Regions from separate parts of the Homo sapiens genome. Here region 2 is linked to region 1. The links come from fine-mapping of genetic effects on gene expression. A gene starts in region 1. The other region holds a variant in brackets. All regions are shown on one strand. Distances are from middle to middle.

Region 1 (2,916 bases):
CCCTCAATACGTAAGTCAATACTGATTCTTAATTCTCTCTCAAGTGCCCTTGAAAATGACGGAGCATTGCAACAAACAAACTGCAAACAACAAACTATGAGTAACTATATCTCGCCAGTGTGCAAATGATTCCGGTAGTGCCATCTCTTGTTCTGACCTGTTATGCAGGGTTACTGAGTGGCTACTCAAAAGAAGTGACTGACTACTACCCACATAGAGAAGAGTAAGGTTTAAATGGGAGGAGTATTTTACAGCACCTGGGGCAAGGAGGCAGGGTGGAAGGAACAGGTGTAGGAAAAAAGAAAAAGCTCTCAAGTGGCCCCTTGACTGATAGTAGGAAAAAGAACATGAGACCTCAGCTTTCACCCTTTGTTGTATTCAAGGAAGAGGGTGTTGAATCGGCTTTATTTCGGTTTTGTGGAAGTACTTTGGGTTTAATTTCTTTCTCAGTTTATATATTGTCTTTCTTCTGCAAAAATCAAGTGCTGGTTTTGACCATGCACTTAAATAGGTCAGCACATTTCTAAAGTACACTATGCGCTTCTGAAGTACTTTATTTGTAAGCCCTCATCTAGGGAAAAAATCAATCAGCAAGAAACTCTTGATGATGGACTACGTGCTCTCAATTACCCTGAACATCACAGAAGGCCTTCAAAGACATCACCTTGTATCTGAGAAGCAAAACTAACATCTGTGAAGCAACAATTCGCAATACAAGAAACACTATAATTAAAAGTCAATTATGTTTCACCATCTGCCTTTATCCCTGGAGGTTGGTCTTAAGGTAGAGAGGGGCAGGATATCCTTGGACACAACCTCACCCAATTAAAAATCAAGACAAATTAAGATGTTCTGTACTTCTGTCCTGTCCTTACTTGATTAAGCCCACCCATTCTGCCAAATGCAAACAAAGTAAGGTATGGACAGGAAGCAGGTGAAGGAGGTAGAGGGAAGATCCTTTCAGAAAAGCAGTGGTTGCCTACTTTCAGTCAATGAATATTTACTAAGCCGTGTCCAAAGTACACTTTGCTGTTTTCACTTCTTTGTCAAAATATTGCCCCCTCGCCCCCAGCAGGAACTGCTGGACCAGTCTGGGCAGTCACGCTAAGCCACATTACAACACGATCAGCATACTGCCTGACGCACAAGGCACGGGGCCTCTGGACGCGTGTTCTGAGCCCTTCGCAGGAGACTCGTCCTACAGAGCCGAAGAAAACAGAAAATCATGAACACAAAGAAGAGCACGAAGCCGACCTCCAACTGGCAAAATCAGAAATCTCTGCCGAGAATGGCTCGAGCGCTTTTCTCGGTCCTCTCTTCCTCCGCTGCCCACCCGCAGGCCGGTCGCCCGCCCTTCCCGCGCCCCGCGTCCGCCGCGCGTACCTCCCTCTCGGTCAGGTTCTTGTCCGGCCCCAGCAGGTACGGGGTCAGGAAGGGCTCGGACGGCCTGAGGCTGGCGAAGAAGCCGTAGGCGCAGAGCAGCGCGGTCGGCAAGAACCAGCATTCGCGACGGACCCGAGCGGTCCGCAGGAGCACAGTGGCCGCCGCCGCCGCCGCCCGCCGAGACACCGGGCCGGGCACATCCATCCGGGGCGCGAGGGGAGGGGACCCGGCCCGGCCCCTTCCTTCTCCTCCTCCGCCAACTGGAGTGAGGGTCAGGCACTTGTAACCGCGAGTGACGCCTTCTCCCTGTAAGGCCAGGACGTTCTGGACTCGCCGCCGCCTCCGGCTACAGAACCCCCAGCTTTACCCTACAGACGCCTCTAGGGTCGCTGCCTGATCGCCCAGTTTAAGGGAGACCCGTCCTAAGGCCCACCCTCTGCCACCGCCTCCACTCCGGGAACCAATCACAGCGGACGCCGGGAATACTTGCCTGCTCTTCCATTGGTCGTGGGTCACACGACGTGAACTGGGGCGGTGGCAGCACGCCAGGCCTCTGACGTCCCAGGGCTCAAGCGCGGAGGACATGTGGAACTCCACTCCAAAAGCGGCGGCTTGCGGCGGAGCTCTCTCTAGTGAGGCGGCCAGCTGGCGTTCGTGGCACACTTGCTGTCGGCTCCGCTCATCTGTTGGGAATGCGTCCTGTGGGCCTAGTCCTCCGCTGGAAGAAACGCGCTGTTCTCCCCAACCACCGTTTATCATTCTTATTCACCGTCTCCGGAATGTCCATTCAGTTTCCGCTCCTGAGAGACTTAGTGACTGAGGCCAGGCAAAGATTTCACCTTGGGGAGGGGGAACGTTAAACCTTTCCTCCAGCAGCTTTCGTGTTTTAAATTGTATTCATCCGCCATGGAAAGACATCAGAAGCCCAGGATCTAAGAGACAGACTGAAATGAAGAAAGTAGATAATATTGTGAGAATAATGAACAAGCTGGTCACTGAACAGCAGAACCGTAATGGAGTCCCAGTTAAAGGGTTTTAACTTTATTTCGTCACTTTTTGCAAGCATGATACAAAGAAAACAAACACCTAACTACGCTACGGTTTATAGTTAAAAGGAAGGTGGAAGATCCTGAGTCATTACAGCAATCACAAAACATGATGGATTTCTTCATTTAAAAACACAAAAGAGGTCTTGGCATAGTTTTCAAGGGCAAAGCATGACAAGACTCTCCAGTGCTTTCTTTCATCCCCCTCTGTGTGCCTTTTTCTGCCTGACTCACAGCCTGGCTCAATCCTAATCTTTCTACTGCAAAGATGCAGCATTTAAAGCAATTTTTCCTGTGCAGTATTTGTAGAATGACAGATCCTGCCAGAAGCTCTTGGAAACATTTTGGAACTATCTTGCTTTTCTGTATGTTATGATCCATCTAGCACCGTTTTCCTCCTGTGGTAGCAAATGACACTTTTTTCAAGCATCAGCAGCAGAAATGAGTCTACCAGATGGAATAAGATACTGGTAAAGGGAAAGATTTG
Region 2 (2,916 bases), 26 kb after region 1:
CATGGGCGTCTTCTATAATATTTCCAAAGGTGACCCACTTTTAATCTGGTCACTACCATCTGTAATTCACGATTTGGAGATTAGGGATATGTATTGTATCTGTTTTTGTGTCTTTCCCCACCCTCACATCATCAGTTCTACCCAGGTAATTCTTATTTGTTTTGACCTTGCACATACACTGGATTTATGGGCATGGTACAGGAGATGGAGGGAGGTGGATAAGTCATTATTAGACTATATAGAGAGGGTAGGGAAAATGAGTAGGTATGTCAGAGAAAGCTTAACTGGGCCCTGAATTTGAGCATAAAGCTCTTATTTATCCTGGTTTTTATTGATCCTTATCCCAGTCCTCTCTTCTCTGGAGTTCTGCACAGGTTGCCTTCATACACATCTAATATCAGATGACCTAGGTTAAATCATCTCCAAAAGTTTTCACAGTCTGATTCCATCCCACAAGGCTACTCATCTAATTGTCTTTTTCTTTACTACTCAGGGTGTAATCTGTTAGGCTTAATAGGCTCATAGTGTCTATTTGCTTCTTATGTTTGTCTTCTCTATGCAACTAGATGATGTATTTGAATAAGCCAGAGAAGTGTCTTTTATTTCCTTTATATACTCTCCCCTACAATGCCTGTCATAGTGGTTTGCTGTGTCGATAGAATGAGCTTAATACTTTTTAAAAAATTAAAATGATGGTACATGTAGAGAGGTTAATATCAAGTTTTCTTTACATGTACCAAATGCAAAATACATGTATATGTTTTGGTGGGGACAGTTCATACAAGCCAGAGATAATAAAATCTTAAAGCTCTGTAGTCTCTCCCAACAATTTAAGTACTTGGATATGAAAAACCTTGTTATCTGGGCATTGACCATGTAAATATTATTCCACACATAATCATTTTGTCTTTGTCTACAGCTTTCCCTATCTCTAGGCTATGAGAATATATGAACTTGGGAGAATTAGGCATTCAGAATTTTCCATAAAATACTTCTCCATTAGGAAATATAAAACAAGAAAAATGCTAACATGGAGCTATCAGATATTTTTAAGTATGTGTTAGGCCCACTGCATTGGGGCATGTGCCAATATTTCGTAAAACCAAAATTCACTGCCTAGTAAATTGTTCCTTCCTGGTCTGTCCAGAGAAGTAAATGGTGAAATATTCATGGCTCTTGGGAACATCCAAGCTATTTGGCAAGAGCTTTTCCCTGGGTTTGCCAAAATGGCCCTGAACTCAAAATATGGTGTTTATTCAAAATGATTATAAAAATGGCATGAAGTTTGTTATTTCTTTTAATAACTTGAAAGAATTCTGGAGAAATAATTTCATGTTTCTTCTAGTCCTTTCATATTTTTGATACATTCACAGCTATTCTTTTCCAAATTGCAATTAGAATGACTAATAATGTTTAGAATTTTATCTGTTGGTTTCTCTTAAGTCATGATTCTACCGTGAGTCATTTAACTTCTTTCCAAAGCACCCAGTTGTAACAAACAGTGGTTTATGTCACTGGAGACGTACTATGTAGTCAAACTTGTAATTTCATCTAAGTGAG[A/T]TCAGAGAGAGAAATAAAAAGTGGGTATCTTTTTTATTTCAAAATAACAGGGGTTTTAATATTTCTACACAGCATTAGATAATAGCCCAAACATATTATTGATCCCCAAACAAGTATTTTCCAGATCAATTAATAGTCATTATCAATTAATATTCATGTCTACCTGTCTGAGCAATGGATTAGAAACATTATAAGTTTCATTTTATGGAAGAGAAAGCAGACTAAAAGTCTAGGGATATGATCATTTGGTTTCTGGTTTCAGTTCTGACACTAACAAGCAATATCCTTGGGCAAGTTGTTTAATCTTTGGGGCCTTATTTTTCTCAAGTAGAGAATAACGAAGCTGGATCTCATGCTCCATTCCCATCTCTTCCCTACCCCCCATTATTTCATAAGATTTTCTTGCCCCTATTATGCCTTAGTAAATTCTAGATCAAGAGAGATCCTGCCCAATTTCAGAGTAGAGAAGCCCAGGACTAGCTGCGTAATTTGTGGGGCTCATTGAAAAATGGAAATGTCGAATTCCTTCTTAAAAAATAAAGGATTTCAAGAGGGTAACTGCAAAGCATTAAATTTAGCATGCGGTCCTTCTGAGCATGTGACCCTTTGCAACTGAACAGATCACACACATCCAAGAAGCTGGCCCTGTAGAAAACAAAGAAATGTTTTCCCCCACCTTCCAACATTCTCTTTTGCTCTTAACGGAATGGAAATCTTAGAAATGTTGATGGGACAATGACATGAATCATGAAAAGAAAGGAATAGTGGGAATACGAATATTAGAAAGCCAATGTTTTGTGGATGTTTGAAACTCTCATATACATTCATAGGGCTTACCCCACTGGTATGGGCAACAGGTAACTCTGGTAGTTTCTAAAGATGCTCCCAGTGAATTATGCCTCCTGGTATGTGGTCCTTATGCAGTTCCCTTCTACACTGAATCGAGACTGGCCTGTAATTTGTGTTCACAACGAATAGAATGCAGCAAAAGCAAAGCCCTGTCTCCTAGAGATTCTGGTATGTTGTCTCTTTGTTCTCATTGGTTTTAAGGAACTTATTTATTTCTGCCTTAATTTCATTATTTACCCAGTAGTCATTCAGGAGCAGGTTGTTCAGTTTCCATGTAGTTGTGTGGTTTCGAGTGAGTTTCTTAGTCCTCAGTTCTAATTTGATTTCTCTGTGGTCTGAGAGATTGTTATGAATTTCGTTGATAAAATTTTATATATTTATGGTATACATAACATTTTGATATATGTACACGTTACAGGATGATTAAATCAAGCTAAGTAACAAATCCATAATCTCACATAAATTTTTTTTGGTTGCTCTTTTAACACTAAGTTTTGGGGTGGTTTA

Direction of the effects. Alleles are on the strand shown, and positions count from the first base shown. SD is a standard deviation of normalised expression in the study named.
In carriers of allele A in region 2, the expression in fibroblasts of the gene that starts at base 1,765 in region 1 tends to be higher than with T alone (moderate effect, 0.43 SD a copy in GTEx).

What was found. PIP is the estimated chance that this variant, and not a neighbour inherited with it, causes the effect. A credible set is the group of variants that fine-mapping cannot tell apart.
Region 2: its variant is the best candidate, but not a certain one, in a credible set for the expression of SLC19A2 in fibroblasts (GTEx, PIP 0.52).

The regions. Positions count from the first base shown.
Region 1 is chr1:169,484,180-169,487,095 of GRCh38, forward strand. It overlaps SLC19A2 (solute carrier family 19 member 2), which reads right to left and starts at 1,765. Exons shown (of 6, transcript NM_006996.3): 1 at 1,384-1,765. The coding sequence starts at 1,587. RefSeq lists enhancers at 1,170-1,229, 1,772-2,066, 1,870-2,119, 1,902-2,822, 2,130-2,199 and a silencer at 1,410-1,589.
Region 2 is chr1:169,510,378-169,513,293 of GRCh38, forward strand. It overlaps F5 (coagulation factor V), which reads right to left. Exons shown (of 25, transcript NM_000130.5): 25 at 1,574-2,916. Among named protein-coding and RNA genes, the nearest start is that of SLC19A2, 26 kb to the left of the region's middle. RefSeq lists a silencer at 361-561. The variant A/T (reference allele first, on the strand shown) is at 1,561.